Regions from separate parts of the Homo sapiens genome. Here region 2 is linked to region 1. A link means that fine-mapping ties the variant in region 1 to the expression of a gene that starts in the linked region. Tissue or cell type: cerebellar hemisphere. Region 1 holds a variant in brackets; the other region holds the start of a gene. All regions are shown on one strand. Distances are between the middles of the regions.

Evidence for each region. PIP is the estimated chance that this variant, and not a neighbour inherited with it, causes the effect.
Region 2: SIRPA starts here. The variant in region 1 is fine-mapped to the expression of SIRPA in cerebellar hemisphere (GTEx, PIP above 0.99). The same link has a PIP of 0.9 or more in cerebellum.

The regions. Positions count from the first base shown.
Region 1 is chr20:1,944,084-1,952,184 of GRCh38, reverse strand. PDYN-AS1 (PDYN antisense RNA 1) reads right to left here and starts at 4,975. Exons shown (of 4, transcript NR_134520.1): 1 at 4,534-4,975; 2 at 637-706. RefSeq lists silencers at 1,048-1,342, 4,688-4,982 and enhancers at 4,129-4,676, 6,110-6,656. The variant GCAGC/C (reference allele first, on the strand shown) is at 4,992.
Region 2 is chr20:1,891,840-1,899,940 of GRCh38, reverse strand. It overlaps SIRPA (signal regulatory protein alpha), which reads right to left and starts at 4,534. Exons shown (of 8, transcript NM_001040023.2): 1 at 4,415-4,534. The coding sequence starts at 4,493. LOC102724545 (a long non-coding RNA gene) reads left to right here and starts at 5,691. Exons shown (of 4, transcript NR_186374.1): 1 at 5,691-5,822. RefSeq lists an enhancer at 3,374-3,889 and silencers at 5,181-5,300, 5,311-5,570.

The sequences.
Region 1 (8,101 bases):
TGGGGACTGAGCCTCAGAGAGCAGATTCTGCCTCTATCTCATAACCACTTAGGGTGTGTGCCCATTGAGCCACATGGTCCTTACTTAATTTCTTTCTCTCTTCTTGTCTTTCTTTCTGTATTTTTTCTTTTTTCTTTTGTCTGAAGCACACGTTAAACTTGCATAAGCTGTAATTTTATTGTAATCAAACTGTCAAAGAGGCCCAAAGTGACAGGGAAGTGAATGCAACTGCCTCTCTTCCTGCAGTGGTCAGGGAAGGCTTCTGGGAGGAGGTGGCATTAAAGGCATAAAGGGTGAATAGGAGTTTAAACAGCACACAAGGAAGGCAGGCAAGAAGAGTGAAGGTACAGGTGAGAAGAGATTGTTTTGGGAGGGACTCTTAAGTCCTTCCAGGTGGCTGTGTGAGCTGGGCAGGAGGCGAGGTGGGGTGGCAGACAGGGCCTTTCAGTGCCTCACTAGGGGAGCTGGACTTTATGTTAAAAGCAGCGACCGTCAATGTGTGGACGGTGGGCTCCTTGGGGATGTCCGAGCTCCACACTGTAGCCAAGACAGGGAAACCAAGGCCCCGTAAGGCTCCTCAGCCTGTCCCACCCCACTCAGTTCCCCAAGGCTCTTCCATGCTGACCAAGCACTTACCTAAACGCTCTTATCCTCATGTCTGGCTGACGGAAGCGGCTCAGTCTGGCAGGTCTCTCTAGAAGGGCATCTACTGGGGGACGGAGAGAGGGTTGACAGAGAAAATACAGGATATCTATGCCCAGTTACAGTTGAACTTTGGACAAACAGCAAGTGATTTTTATATCTCAAATATTGCATGATATATACTAAAAGTATTCATTATTTTTATGAAATTCAAATGTGATTGGGGGTCCTCTATTTTTATTTGTTAAATCTGTCTAGTCTAGATGGAGGGGAACAGGTCACTTCCCAAATAGAATTGAAACCCCTGTGCCTTAGTCAGCATCCCATCAGAGAATTAGAGATGCTGAGCCTTTAGGAGTCATCTAGAACAAGGGATTCTGCCTCTAGTGTGGACTTGCAAGGCCCATGGATCGGCTGGACCAGCAGTCGGAAGGAAGAGGTGCCACGGACAAGAGTAAGAACAAACGGGAACATGTGTCTGTCCGCCACCCCTGCCCATGTCACTGCCACAGTGACCTGCAGGAGAATCCGCCGCCTTCCCTCTGAGAGGCTTTGTAACCATGGTTACAAAGGAAGGGCCCTGGGGAGTATGGAATCTGCACCTCATTTCTGCCCTGGTCTGTAACTTTGGGTAAGTTACTGATAGTAGTCAACTTCTCCATACCTTGGTGTCCTCACACATTAAATGTATACAAAAACTCACACCTCCCTTAGAGAGCTGCGGAGAAGATCCAATGGGAATGAGCCCAGCCTGGCAGCTGACATTTCCTAAGCAGTCAATTAATAATAGTTACTAGCAGTGTCAAAGAGTTGCTATCCATTTATTTTGCTGTAAAAAAAAAGTCACTTGTTTTAAAAGACAAGATAGGCTGGGTACGGTGACTCACGCCTGTAATCCCAGCACTTTGGGACACCAAGGTGGGTGGATCACCTGAGGTCAGGAGTTCGAGACCAGCCTGGCCAACATGGCGAAACCCTGTCTCTACTAAAAATACAAAGATTAGCCAGGTGTGCTGGTGTGTGCCTGTGATCCCAGCTACTTAGGAGGCTGAGGTGGGAGAATTGCTTGATCTGGGGAGGCAGAGGTTGCTGTGAGCCAAGATCATGCCACTGGACTCCAGCCTGGGCGACAGAGTGAGACTCTGTCTCAAAAAAACAAAACAAAAACAAAAGACAAGATATTAAGAGGCAGTATGTTTCAAAATCCTCTCTTGATTAAGTAACTCACCAGGTAAGTCTTGGAAAGATAACATAAACCACCTTCAAAAGCATCTCCAAATGCCAAAGTGAAAATCAGATACCGCGTACAAGAGAGCTACGAATCTCTGAAATCTTAGCGATTCTTCCCCCAAATAAATGGAACAGAGAAGCGCTAAGTAATGGGAAAATAACAAAATTCTGCTTCAGCACTGTTACAGATGCAGTGACTGCTGATTAAAAGAAAATACTTCCTTTAAAAAGGCCACTTATGAAAAGGAAACTCTGGTAGCAAAAGCTGGCATGGAATGGGGGTCAGGCAGCAGGTGGTGGCCACAACCAGGGGGCATTGATCACATGTGAGATGGGGAAGGCCAGTGGGCCTCCAGGAGGGCTGAAGGGCAGAGGACCCAGAGGACAGTGGCTCCCTTCCTTCCCGCTGCTCAGAGAGTGGTGGGGAGAAGGGTTTCCTGTAACCTCAGGGCCTGTTTTCACTGCTTGTTTTCATGGCCATTCAATGCTCTGGCTTGTTTTCAGGCCTGAAGAGGGAAAAAAAAATAAAAGTCAATTCCTTGTATTTGGAAGAATAGGGGTAAACTGGCCCTCTTCAGGGTGTTGGAAGCCTCTCTCTGCCTCCTGCTGGAAAAAGAGGCCCCTGGGCAGTCTTTTTAGCCACTTAGCCTGGTTCTGAGGTTTTCTTCTTAACAACTTATAATTCCAGATTGCAGCAAGAAATACAAATGCATTGGAGACCGGGTCTGTGCCAGAGGTGGAGGGGTTGGGCAGAGTGTTCCCAGGAGCACAGCAGGAGGAGAAAGTTCCAGGGTAGAAACTGGAACTCCTGCATGTTGGACACAAGTGGAATGGAGGCAATGTGGCCATCTGGATATGATTAAAAAAAAAAAAAGTTCACCCCTTTGATCCAAGCATCTCATATCTGGGGCTATCTATGCAATAATGTTTAAGACAAAATTGTTTGCAAGTAGGGAAAAAATAGAAACAGTCCAGCTCTCCATCAATAGGGAATTCATTAATTAAATTATTATGTTGACATCTGTCAGTGGCAACTTGTTTCTTTTTTTCCTTCAACTCTGTCTTCCCCATCAGCTGGTCCCGTGGGCTCTGCCACTGAGGCATGTTCCAGGCTGGAGGCTGCATCCCTAGTCCCTGCCACCATCGCCTCTTGCCCGTGCCTCTGAATCCTGTAGCCTGACAAACTTCCTGGTTCCTCCATTGGTGCCTCTCCAATCTGTTCCTACACAGCTGCAGGACCCCCGGGTTCAGGGACTTCACATGTCTCTCAGGCTAAAATCCACAGGCGCTGTCTCACTGGGCCCTGGCCTGACTCTCCAACCTGGTTTCAAAAATGCTCATTCTTTACCTCCAGTTGAATCACACTTGAGCTTAGTGCAGCCTCCCAGCCTTTGCCCTGGCTGCTTCCTCTGCCTGGACTGCTCCATTCTCCTTCCTTCTCTTCCTTCCGGTGGCAGTAAAATGCCATATCCCTGGGGACTTCACGCACTGTCTGTAAATTGTTTTCCCTCTCCCAACCAGCGTCTCTCTAACACTTTGTCCATCTTTTCTTTTTACTTTTTTCTTTTTTCTTTTTTTTTTTTTGTTTTTTGAGACAGAGTCTCACTCTGTCACCCAGGCTGGAGTGTGGTGGTGAGATCTCGGCTCACTGCAAACTCTGCCTCCCAGATTTAAATAATCCTGGTGCCTCAGCCTCCAGAATAGATGGGATTACAGGCATGCACCACCACATAGAGCATTTTTGTTTTGTTTTGTTTTTTTGTATTTTTAGTACAGATGGATTTTCTCTACTAAAACCCTAGGCTGGTCTTGAATGCCTGGCCTCAAATGATCTGCCCGCCTCGGCCTCCCAAAGTCCTAGGATTTCAGGCATGAGCCACAGAGCCTGGCCCCATCTTATTTTCTTCATAGCACTCAGTATAAGGTGAAATGCTCTCAACTATTTATTCATGCATTTGTCAATTATCCCTCCCATGAGAACTCAGAGCAAGGACTGAGTGTGTTGTATGCCCTTGCCTGGTGTACAGGAGCTGCCCGCTCTACACATGTTTGGTGAATGAATGAATGAATGAATGAATGAATACAAGAATGTTATGAAGCTGCTTGAAAGAATGAGGTAGACCTGTATGTCTTACTTGGAAAGGTGCCTTAAATGTATACATGTAAATCCACTTATGAAAAACCAGAAATTAATCAAGTCTATGGAATTAGAAGAGTGACTAGTTTTTGAGGGCTCACTATCATCTGGGCACAGTTTTAACCACTTTTACATTTATTGTCTTGTCTCATTTGGTCCTCACAGTAACCTTCTGGGATAGGTACAGTTTTTGGCACCATTCTACAGAGGAGGACGCTGACACAGAGAGGTTAAGAAACTTGCTTAAGGTCACGCAGTCAGGAAATGGGGGAGCCAGGAAATGAATGTATAGGGTCTGACCTCTGAAAGAACATTCACTAAATGGTGTAGAGTGTTTATTTCGGGATGGACAGGGGCTGAGGTGAGATTCTGGAGGCCGTGGGGTATTAGGGGAGAGGTCCAGACGCCAATTCTATTCCTGCAGTACTGTGTGATCTTGGGCAAGTCATCTGCTTCTCTGTGCTTACCTGGGAACCAGAGGCGATGGTGCAGGGCTACCGAGAGAAGTAAATAGGATAACGTACCCACAGCGCCCAGCTCGAGGCCCTCCATCAGCCGACGATGGGAATGTTTGGTGGAGTAAGTCTGCCCTTCAAGGCCTGAAAGCCCCGTCCCGGTTCCCTGCGCCAGGGCCGCACAGGGGTGGGGAGAGGGCCGCAGGGCCTGGTTGCTTGGCTTGAGGCAGGGTCCTCCCTCAGGGCCTCGGCTCTCCCAGCTGTCGGCCGCGCTGCAGCTTCCCCTGCTCTGGACCGCGACTGCCTGGGCTGGGCGGCCGCACCACGGAATGCGCAGGGGTCATTTTTGGAAGAGCTCAGCTCCAGGCGCAAGGTGCCAAGAGCAGGGCGGATGACTTCAAAGGGCCTTTGCAGCACGTCCTGAAAGATGAGCCCTTGCAGCTCTCCCTGCCCCCGCAGAACACACAGCTTGAAAGGGAAATCGAGCTCGGAGCAGGTGGCTCAGGAATTTGGTGCACGCTGGGGAG[GCAGC/C]TCATTTGGGCACAAATACGCGAGGAGGGCGTGGCCTCCTTACACTCCCGGTTAGTATTGCGCGTTTGGGTCCGGGGTAAGCTCGCCTTCTGAGCTTTCATCGCTGGCCGCATTTCGCATTTATTTTTCTGTTTATTTCATGATCCCTTTCTTCCCCGACGAGGGCCTGGGATTTGTCTGTTGCTCTCTGTGTCTACAGTTCGACCTGCAGCGGAGGATGAGTAAATGTTTCCCTAGTGAATGAATGCGTTTTCCTCTTCCACCGGTTTCATCACGTTGGAAAGGCACCGGGGTTTAATCCTGCCTCTAGTAATAACCAGTTGGGTAATCTTGGACTTCGCTGTTCAGCTATAGGCTTAAAATCTGCCTCCATTTGAACCCAGGCCCTGCCTCTTACTAGCTGCGTCACTTTAGAAAGTTGCCAAACTTCTCTGTGTTTCAATTTCCTCATTTGGGCAACGGGGTACTGAGTGCCTATGTCACAGATTGGAGTGAGGGATAAAGGGCTTAACACATACGAAGCGCGACTAGGACGGCACATAGTAAGGTCTAGATAAATATTAACTCGTATTATTTTATTATTATTTTAAAATCAACTTTATTAAAGTATTAACTTACAAACAATAAAATGCACTCATTTTAAAGTATACAGTTTGATGAGTTTTGACTGATATGTACACCCATGTAAGCACCACCTCAATCAAGATAAGCATTTCCAGGTCCCCGAAAGTTCCCTTTGTCCCTTTTAGTCAAGTGCTTCCCTCGCCCTAGCACCTGACTGATGAGTTTTGCCGGTTCTCGAACTTTCCATGAGTCTGGGAATGGTGGTTCACGCCTCTAATCCCAGCACTTTGGGAGACTGAAGCAGGAGGATCACTTGAGCCCAGGAATTTGAGACCAGCCTGGGCAACGTAGGGAGACCCAGTCTCTACAAAAATTTTTTTAAAAAATTAGCTGGGCTGGTTGGCATGCACCTGTAGTTCCAGCTACTTGCAGGCTGAGGCAGGAAGATCACTTGAGCCCAGGAGTTTGAGACCAGCCTGGGCCACATAGGGAAACCCTGTCTCTACAAAAAAAATTTAAAAAAAATTAACCAGGCATAATGCATTGCACTAACACTTATTCCACACTCAAGAAACGCTCTCTCCTACCTCCTCTCCCTTCTTCCCGTTAAAGGGGTCCTTCCAAGGGTATCGGGAGGCAGGAATCTAAAGGTCAAGGGCACTGTGGAGTTGATGGGGGAGAAACCACTGTGTTTATAAAGCAGGTTGTTATTTTTTCATTCTTTGCCTTGTGTCCTTTCCCCTACTTCCCTCTTTTGAGGATAATTAAAATGCAAGCTGGCACTCCCTTGGAGGAGACAGCTGAAGATTTAATTGCCCCAAGAAAAATTTTCCAGCAAAAGGTCCTGTGGTAATGGCAGCTCTCGGCCGGGCTGCCCGAGTGCCTTTGCATCTGGCACAAAACATTAGCGATAATGCATTAATCTGCATGTGCACAGGGTCCATTTACTGGCATGGGGGGGAGCCATGGCAGAATCAAGCCGACAGCCTTAGTCAGGCTGCAGCCTTCTTGCCATTAAACTCTCACCCGGCCTCATTCTGGAGACAGGTCTGTGGCCCAGATCCATGCGACCGGCTGCCGCACCAGCTGACCTTGCCCAGAGAGGGCCTGCGGGGGCAGAAGGCCCAGGTTGGTGGGAACGGCACCTTCTACCATGAGGGCTTGGCCTGTTGTCATTGAAGCAGAGCCAGGAGGACAAGTCTGTTGAGAGGCTGAGCCCCGCCAGCTCCCAAAGTTGAGCCATTGACCAGCCACGCTAGGGTTGTGCAATTTGAGAGTAGACAAATTTTTGCAATCTTTTATCCTGTTTTCTAAGTATAGCCCCAGTTTCTCTAGAAGAGGAACCAAAGGCTCAGACAAAGGTCATTGGCTCCTTGCCTGTTGGGGATCATGCGTCATTTTTTTAAAAAAGTGATTGCCCTGAACCCAGGATCATGATGAAAGGCAGAGAAACTCAGTGGGAAAAGTCAGATGTACTGAGGTTTGCTTCTAGTTCCAAACCTGCCAGCCAGGGACTCTCAGTTCTCCTAAAATGCCAAGCAGACTCCGACTTTTATGCTCTTCCTTCTCCCCCTTTGCTCTCTTCCCTCCCTCTCCCCCTTCCTTTCTTCCTTCCCACCCATCCACCCATCCGTGCTCTCCTGCATCAATCCAGCCATCCATTCAGCCTCCCTTCTTCCATCCATCTATCCTCTCATCCTCCTTCTCATCACTCCGTCCATCCTCCCATCCCTCTAATATTTGCTGGGTGCCTCCTATGGGCTTAGCATAGGAGTTACACTGATGAGTGAATCAACACCCTCCTTGCCCTGAGGCAGCAACTGGGGCAGTAGAGGAGAGGATGGTAATCATGTAATCACAGTGCCAATGTATAATTACAAATTGAGATGAGGGCTACAAAGAAGGGCTGGACATGGTTACTATGGAAGTGTTTGACAAGGGAACTTAGCCCAGCCTCTGGATTGGAGGACAAGCAGGAAAGATCCAGGGAGTGTTGCAGGCAGAGGGAGTAGCTCATGCCGGGGTCCTGTGGTTCATTTTAGAAACTGGCAGGAGGCTGGTGTTGCCAGTGCAGGGAGTGATGGAGAGAGTGGTGTGAATCGGGCTGCAGAGCTCAGTAGGGGCCAGTGCACACAGGGACGGCTGGCCTCTGCCAGGCACTGGCTCCTTGGAACTCCTTTGCACTGGCTCTTTTGCACTTACCTGGCTTCTTGTTACTTATTTTTTAGATCTCAGTTCAGGGATTTCCTCTTCAAGAAGTCTTTTTCTGCCCTGTGCAGGCTGAATGAAGCCAGTATACTTTCCTTTAATAAGACAAAGTATCTCAAATTTGGAAATAAGGCAAAAGAAGGCAGTGCTTCATCTCGTTGCCATACTGGGGCACGGTTTAAAAGCCCCACTGAAGGATTAGTTAGTTCTGTAGAAGAATATACCTGAGTTTGTCTTTCCTATTTGATTAAGGCCCAGATTGGGGCTAATTTGTAGACTTTTGTCTGGTGGGTGCAAATGGCTTCTGTCTGGCAGAAAAAAAATATCTCCAAAG
Region 2 (8,101 bases), 52 kb after region 1:
CATGCTAATTACAACACTGGTTAATATGTATTGAGTGCTTACTACATACAAGGCATGGCTTCCAGCATTATACACGCATTAATTAACTTAATCCTTGCAATAGAGTGGTTAATACCATTCCTCTTTTACAGATGAGCAAAATGAGACACAGATTCCTGCAAATTGTCCAAGTCAGTAGCAGGGCTCAGATCAACACCCAGGGGTCTTAGCACCATCTTAGCGCTAGGCCAGGGTGTGTGTCTGCGTGGAGAGGCTCCTCTGACCTCTCCCCAGGAGGCACATTAAATTGAACCTCGGAGGATGAGTAGGATTCAGACACAGGAAGACAAGGAGGTACAGGGAGGGCATTTCTGATGGCAGGAACAGCACGGGCCAAGGCACAGAGCTGAGAGTTCAGCTGAGGGCATGGATCTGTAGAAAACCGTTTACCAAACGGAGAGAGGCCACATGCTAACGGGCATACTACAAATCAAATGCCTCTCGTTCATAAGTTCAGGGAACACTGGAGTAAATGTGACCCAGCTCGGGATTCTACATTGCAGGGCTTCTCAGGGTCTTTGGGGTGCTCGTGTGGCTGAGTAGCCAGCAAAGCTCTGGTCTGCAGGGAGGAAGCCTGGTTATCCTGCAGCATCTCAACAGGTCAGCTTGTTGGAAAACATGTGGCTGGAAATCAGGCCTGGCAGGGAGGAAGCCCAGGCCTCACGGCAGCTTTGTGTTTTTTTGTTTTTTTTTTTTAAAGAAAACTTGGACCCACTCAACAGTTTTGAGCTGGGGAGTGACATGATCTGAGTTGTGTTGACAGGCCAGAAATCTGAGCACATTTAAAAAGAGAGAGAGAGGGGGGAAACCTTCCGTCAGTCCAAGACTACAAATAAGAAAATAACCTGTCGCACGGAGCCATTGGAAGCAGCAAGCGAGCGCGTGTGGGATCCGTACAACACTTTTAGACTCCCTTCCTCTCGCACACCCCCTCTCCATCTGTCGCAAAGGGCACCAGGAAGATGCAGGGAGGAATATTCCAGCTCTGGGGGCTCCAGAGCTCAGCAGCCCAGATGGGGGGCTCTCACAGGAGCCACATCACCTCTCATGTGTTGTTACTGGTGAGGACCAAGGGGCTGTCAGTATTTCCACCCTCAGCAGGCTTTCAGAGAAATGCCTGTGACTTCATCAAAACCTTCTGCCCAGAGAAAGAACTCTTCTACAGTCCTCCACCCAAGGCCAGAAAGGGGCCTCTCTCACTCCCTCTCCAGCTTGGACTAAATCATCCTGATTAAGTCATTGAGCTTCTTCCCTAGAAGCCACCCAGCAGGAAGGCCAGCATCCAAAATCCTGGCTCCTCTCTATCACTTATAAGTTAGTTCCCCAGTTTGGGACTCGATTTTCTGCATCTGCAGAATGGGGAGAAGAGCCAATCCATGTCTTGCGGGTGAGACGACGCAGGAGCAGCATCCGGCCTGGAACGCCATTAACTATCTAATGAATGTTGGTTTTCCTCCCTTCTCTCAACACATGGTTCACACCAGCACTGCATAGGTGCTGCATGACTGCAAGTACAGACGTGAATTACCGTGAGTTTCCGAGGGGTTGGTAAAGGCCAGAAAGTACTCAGAGAAAACTATGGCTTTAAAGGAACTTCCAACAGCCTGATGTGTTGAGCCAAAGCACTCCCGCCCCGTTTTCTCTTCTTACGAAAGAGGAAGTGAGATTAACTTTACCATTTAGGAAAGTACAGAGGAGCCCCCAGAGTGCCACCCTCTACCAAACGGTGAGAGGTTCACTGGGGGGCCCCGCTGCTCCCCAGAGCCTGAACTGCAACTTGGCTTGGCCTCCTCCAGGCCAGAGAGAAGAAATGAATGGGAGTTTATCTGAGGTCGGCCTGGGGGGTGACTCAGAGGTCTCAAGGCCTACCTGGGGCCAAGCAGGCATCCTGCGGGTTCAGCGTCAGGCCCTGCTGACACAAAATCAGGTGCCAGGTGTCCCCAGGCCTCAGTCCCTTGCCCTTCTCCCAGCCTCAGAATCTCCCTCAGTGCAGTTGTTTTAGGAAACAGGCCTCACATTGGGTCCAAAAACATAGGTTGGTGACTTCACTGGGATCTTTTTAGAATTTCCCTTTGGCAGCATTTGTGCTAAAAGCAATCTTTAGAAACTTCTTCTCTTGCCTCCCCCACCCAGGATAATTCACATGATTGGCCCCACCCCCCCAAAACAGTGATCATGTGAAGACACAGGAATCATGTGACACCTCCCAGGCTGACAGTTCTGCCTGAGACACTAGTAGTCATTCAATCCAAAGCCGCCTTCCTAAACCTGACATTTTAGTTTCTCACTCGAACAAATCCATTTTCTTAGAAAATTGGACAACTGCCTCCTTGTACCTTCCTACCCTCATATCCTGTCTCTCTACTTCTTTGTTGTAAATTCCATGTCTGGAGCAATAGGGGGAGGGGCCTGAGGCCCCATCCTTCAGCCAAACCAGGTGACTTCCCTGCCCAGGCCCATGGTGTGACCAGGACCCCGAAGAACAGATACTGAAGGATAATGGGAGACTTGAGCTATGATGGTCGCACCTCATCCCTTCCCCACCACCCTCGACCAAGAAATTCATTCTTACCTCCTAAGATTTATTTATTTCAAAGCTAATCTTGGCCCCTCTGCTGCTCCCACTTTTTCAGGCTATTGATGCTGAATGGATTGGAACGGAAGTTTTATGGCCCAATCTTTACCATCTTATAGACTGTTTTTATAGGCAAAAGGGGGAGATGTGCTCACAAGAAAGGTGTTGGTGTTCCCAGCCGGTGCCCCAGGAAAGGCAGGCTGCCCATCGGAGCACTTGCTAATCAGCGTCACTGCTCGTTTGCCAGGGACTGAACCACAGCCTCCTGGTCGGAGAAGGGTCTGGAATAGACATTTAGAAATTAACTCGGGCCCAATTCCCTGCTTCAGGAAAATTAAGCACTTGTGAGTGACACTTGTGCATTTCCAGGCCAGGAAGGATGGCAGGGCAGGAACTCGGACTTTTGCAGGGTACAAATGGCCAGCTCAGGCAGGAAGGAGCAGATAGGAGATGCCACTCACTGGAGAGACGTGAACTGTATCAGTGCTCCCTTCAGCCCAGCAAGGACGCAACTATAACTGAAAAGAACTGGGGGTGGAGGGTGGGGTGGGGTGGGGGGATGCCTATGTGAATTCCTGGGTTTCAGGGGAAACTGCAGGGCAGAGAGAAGCAGCTGTCTACCCCCCATACTTCTCCTTCCACCCACTCTTTGCTAGTTCTCCCTTTCTCCCTGCTATCAGATGGTTACCATCTCTAGTCAAACGCAAAAGGGGGTGTTGGACACTGAGCTCATCTTTACCTCCCTCCTCAAGGGTGGGAGGTACAGAGAGACCCCACTGCCTACAACACAGTTTCAAGACGACAAAAAACAAGATCCCCATTTTTCTCTCCCTCCCAACTCCCTTAATGCCATTTCTCTGCTCCCCCCGCCCCCCACCCGGTGCCCTCCCAGGAGACCCATGGTTTTGCAAAACCCATTTAAGAAGCAAGACTCCTGAATGGTGACCTCACCCTTTGGTGAACATGCACAGTAGCCTTCAGAGCCCGCCTGCCGGCGACAGCCAGGTGTTTGATGTAGGCCAACAGAAAGACATGGTCAGAGCCACAGGTAACATCCCCGCGGAGCACCTGAACTGCAGGGAGCTGCCTGGAAGCTCGGGGAAGGCAGGAGGAAGGGGGAGCTGGGAGCGCCTCAAGGAGCAAGACCACCAGGGAGAGGCTTTGGCAACCACAGGGACAATCCACCGTGTTTTTACATAAGGATCTGTTGCTCGCAGCAGCTCGCTCTGGGGTTACCGCGGCCTCCCGGCTCCCTCTCTCCCAGGCACACACTAACACCGGTTTACTCTGCGCACCAGAGGGAGGGCTCACTCTTCCCTAATTGCAACAGCTTGTCTCTGTTCCATTCCAGGCAGCATCGGGAGGACCTCTGCCCTCACCTCCTCCCCTCACACCCTGAAGTCAAACATGTGGAAAGTCGTATGTCCATGGGGACAGATTCTGGGGAAGCCGGACGGCCCTGCTCTGAAAGCCACTGTCAGTCAGCCTTCCCCATTGGACCGGGCAGGGGCTGAGTGAAGCAACTCGGCTCTTTTGTCTCAGTGCCCAGCACAGTGCACAGAGTCAGAGTCCACAGAGACAAACTCTCATAGAAGAGACTTGGGTTCTACCCTTGGCTGTGTGACCTTGGGCATGTCGCTGGCCCTCTCTGGGCCTCAGTTTCTGCATCTATAACCCTGGTTACAGGCGTCTCTCCCCCTATTACTGCTCGGCATTAGCCGAAGGGGTCCCAGTGCCAGTCTGAGAGGCCTGAGCCCGCAGTTTGGGGAGTGCAGCGGTGGGGAGCGGGGGGGTGCTTACCTGACCAGGCGCAGGACGCGGCGAGCAGCAGGCAGAGCAGCGGCCCGAGGCGGCCGGGGGCCGGGCCGGCGGGCTCCATGGGCCGCGGCTGCGGAGCGAGGAGGGAGAGCGGCCGTGAGTGCGCGCTCGGGCGGGAGCAGGCTGGAGCGGGGAAATGACTAAGGCTCCCCCCCTTCCCCCCTCCCGGCTGGGCCTCCCCCCGACTCCGGAACGGGCGCCTGGAGCGGCCGCCGCCGCCGCCGCGGTTTTTGGAGACCCCCCCTCCCCGCCCCCCAGGAGAAATGGAGAGACGGAGACTGGGAGAGACCCCAAGCGCGCGAGAAATAAAGCCAGGGGCGGCCAGAGAGAGGCGGCAGGAGAGAGAAACAGACCCAAGGGAGCCAGGCAGAGAGCCAGAGACACGGAGAGGCGAGAGGGGGAGAAAGAGGGGGAGAGCGAGGAGCGAGGAGCGAGGCGGCGCGCAGACCGACAGACCGCGCGGGAGAGAGGACCGCGCGAGCAGGGGCGAGGGGCAGCACGGCCGAGCCCGGCCGCGCGGAGCCGCCCCCGCCGCTGCCCACCTGCCCCGCCCGGGCTCCACACGGCGCGGGCGGCTGGGCTCGCTCCCGGCCCGCAGTCCCGGCCGCTGCCCCCGCCCTCCCGGCAGCCCGACCCCCTCCCTCCTTCCCTTTCCCCTCCTCCCGTCTTCCCGCCGCCCGGGGAGGCTTCGGGGCTCCGGCCCCGCCGGCACCTTCTCTGCGAGCGAGCGCCCGCCTGCGCGCCCCGGGGGAGGGAGCGAGGGCTGCGAGCTGCGCGCCCGGCCGGGGAGGGCAGCGTCCTCCCCCGCGCCGGCGCCCGGGCCCCGGCTGCTGTCCCGGGAAGGCGGCCCCGCGAGCCGCCGCGGCCCGCTGGGGCTCGGGACTAGACGAGCCTCCGGCTCCGACAGCGTGCCCGTTCAGAAGCCCGCGCGGCTGGTCCCCAGCCCCGACCGGTCCCGCTCTGCCCCTCCCCGTCCCTGCCGGGCCCGGACCTGCGCCGCCCGCGAGGGCTGGAAGGCACTGGAAGCGCCGCCGGGGCTGCCCAGAGGCCGGGTCCCCGCTCCACTTTGCGCAAACTTGTTTTTCTAAGGTCAGCGCTGCGAGCTGGCTACATCGTCCTCTTAAGGTGGACCGGGGAAGTTGCGGCCGACCTCCCCTCGCCTCCGGACTCCGGCCGCGCGGCTGCTCCCCGCTTCCCACTGGCGAGAGGCTGGAGGCGGCGAAGGAGTCGGGGCGCGGGGGCGCGGGGGGCGGGGGGGCGTCTGCCTTTTAACCCTCCCCAGGAGGTCGTGCCTCTGAGCCCCAAAGCTGAAGGCCCCTCTTGGGGGTGGGTGCGGGCCGGAGGGGCCCGATCCTTTCAGAGCCGGGCCGAGGTGAAGGAAAAGAAGGAAGTAAGTGAACGCAGGGGGAAGGGGAGAGGAAGAAGAGATGATGGTACAAAAATAGCGTGTGTGTAGGAAGGACTTCGGTGCCGCCTGGAAAAGAGGCGCGGGGAGGAGAGGGAGCGAGAAGGGGGCTGTGGCGCGCAACCAGAGGGGAAGGGTCGGGGCCTTCCCAGGGAGGTGGAGGCCCCCTGGCCAGGTGTCTCGGTGGTGGAGGGCGGACTGGGCGGGTGGGAGGCCCAGGCCGGGGCGTGTGTGGGAGAGCGGGGCCCTGAAGGCCTGGGTTCCGGGAGAAGGACAAGCCCTGAGGAAGATGAGGGGAAGGGGAGCCGGGGCCAGAGGCCTGGAGTTGGAGAGGACAGAACCCCGGTTTTCCCGGAGGGAACGCCGTTCCTGTAGTAGCCAGGTCAGTGATGGGGAGTGCCAGTGTCGTGGTCACCTGGCAGAAGGCTCCGCACTGTGGGAGGAACACAAGTTCAAGACCCCGCTGCTAATGGGAGAGAATTTTGGTTCACACAGTGGCGGTTAAGAGGACAGGAATGACACAAGGTGAGAGAAGGCCCAACCCTGTAAATGGACAGAAAGTTGAGGCCCGGAGAGGGAATAGGTTTGCTTAAGGCCACACAGCAAAGCTTGGGGTAGAAACAAGATTTGAATTCCTGATTCCCAGGTTAAAGACCTGTGCAAAGTAACACCACTGCCTCCCCTCCTGCCCCGAGCCTCCTGGTGAAGGCATGGCCCTGCTGTTGTGCAGGGGGGCAGGGAAGGTGCCACACTTGAGAACATGGGCTGAACTCCGTGGGTTCAAATCCCCCGGCTACTGTTATGAGCTGGGTGGACTGGAAAGTGCCTTACCTCTTCTGTGCCTCAGCTTCTTCATCTGAGACGAGGCCAGCGTGAGTCTCAATTGTGAGGATTTGATGAGTTAATATTTGTAAGACATGTTAAAAAGAGCCTAGCACATACCAAGTGCAACATAAGCATTTGATAAATAAGTGAAGTGTTTGACAACAGTCCTTGAGAACCCACAGGGTTCTGGGCAGCATTTGAAGTGCAAGGGAATTTTCATTTCTCTGGGTGTGGGAGAGCACGAGGTCCCTGTCCATGAGGAATTTATATTCTACTAGGGGAGACAGGTAAGTGGACAAGTAGAAATAATTAATGAAGAACGGAAGATTGAACTTAGAGAAGGAGAGGGGTGAGCGTATTTAGATAAGGGGGCCAGTAAGACCTCCCTGAGACATGGGTTGCTGAATCACAAGTAGGGTCAGCAAGGCGAAGATTTGGGGAGAAAGGTGTTCCAGGAAGAGGGCCCAGCACAAGGAGGGGAAGGCCCCAGGTGGCTAGGCCGGAGGAGAGAAAGCGCAGTATGCAGGACTGGGGAGGGTGGGATGGTCTCCAAGACCTGGGTAAAGAGCCTGCGTTTATTCTGCAGTTGGGAGACCCCTAGAGGGTTTTCAGCACGGGAGGGCCATGTCTGATTTATGTGTCTAAAAGGCCAGTCTGCAAGCGGAGGGTGGACTGGAGAGAGAGGAGCGTGGAATTGGGCACCAATGAGAAAGATTGTTCTGGGGTTATCCTGGTATCTGAGGTGGGTGCAGGGAAGGTCTCCAACTCTTCAGGCCACATCGGGTCTAGACCATGAAGGTAACCAGGGAGGCTCCTGGGAAAATCTGTCACCAGACTCCATCTGGGGTGGGAGTGGAGATGGGGGCTGCTGATGAAGTCAGAGAAGAGGCAGCCTCCTGCCCTGGACTTCCAGAAGGCTCTGCTGTTCACTGTTCCTCAAGACACATACACACTCACAAACCTGCTGGGGGATTAGGAAACTGGAGATTAGGGAAGGATAATAATTGAACCACCTGCTATTTATATATAGCACCTTTGGCAAAGGCGCTCAGCAGGGCTTCCCTCACCTCTCCCCCTGGAGGGGGCCCTGACCCTTGTTCTCTGTCCACATAAAAATCATCCTTGGCCAACCTCAAGGCTGAGAAGCCATTGAGACCCACGGGCCATGGGTAGACTGATGTGAGGGGCAACTTGTCTGAGGCCACACAGAGAGATTATGGCAGATAATTGACATGAATCAGCCACCCGCACAGCAGGAGGTCTGTGCTGCCCTGCGTTAAAATCTAACTGCCTTCACACATGTTCACTCACGCACTCAACAGTATTAAGCATCTGCTAGGTGCCAGGCACTGGGAATGCAACAGCTGGAAAACAGATAAAAATCTCTGCCCTCAAGAAGCTGACATTCTAGTGGGAGGAAACGAACCGATAAGATAAGT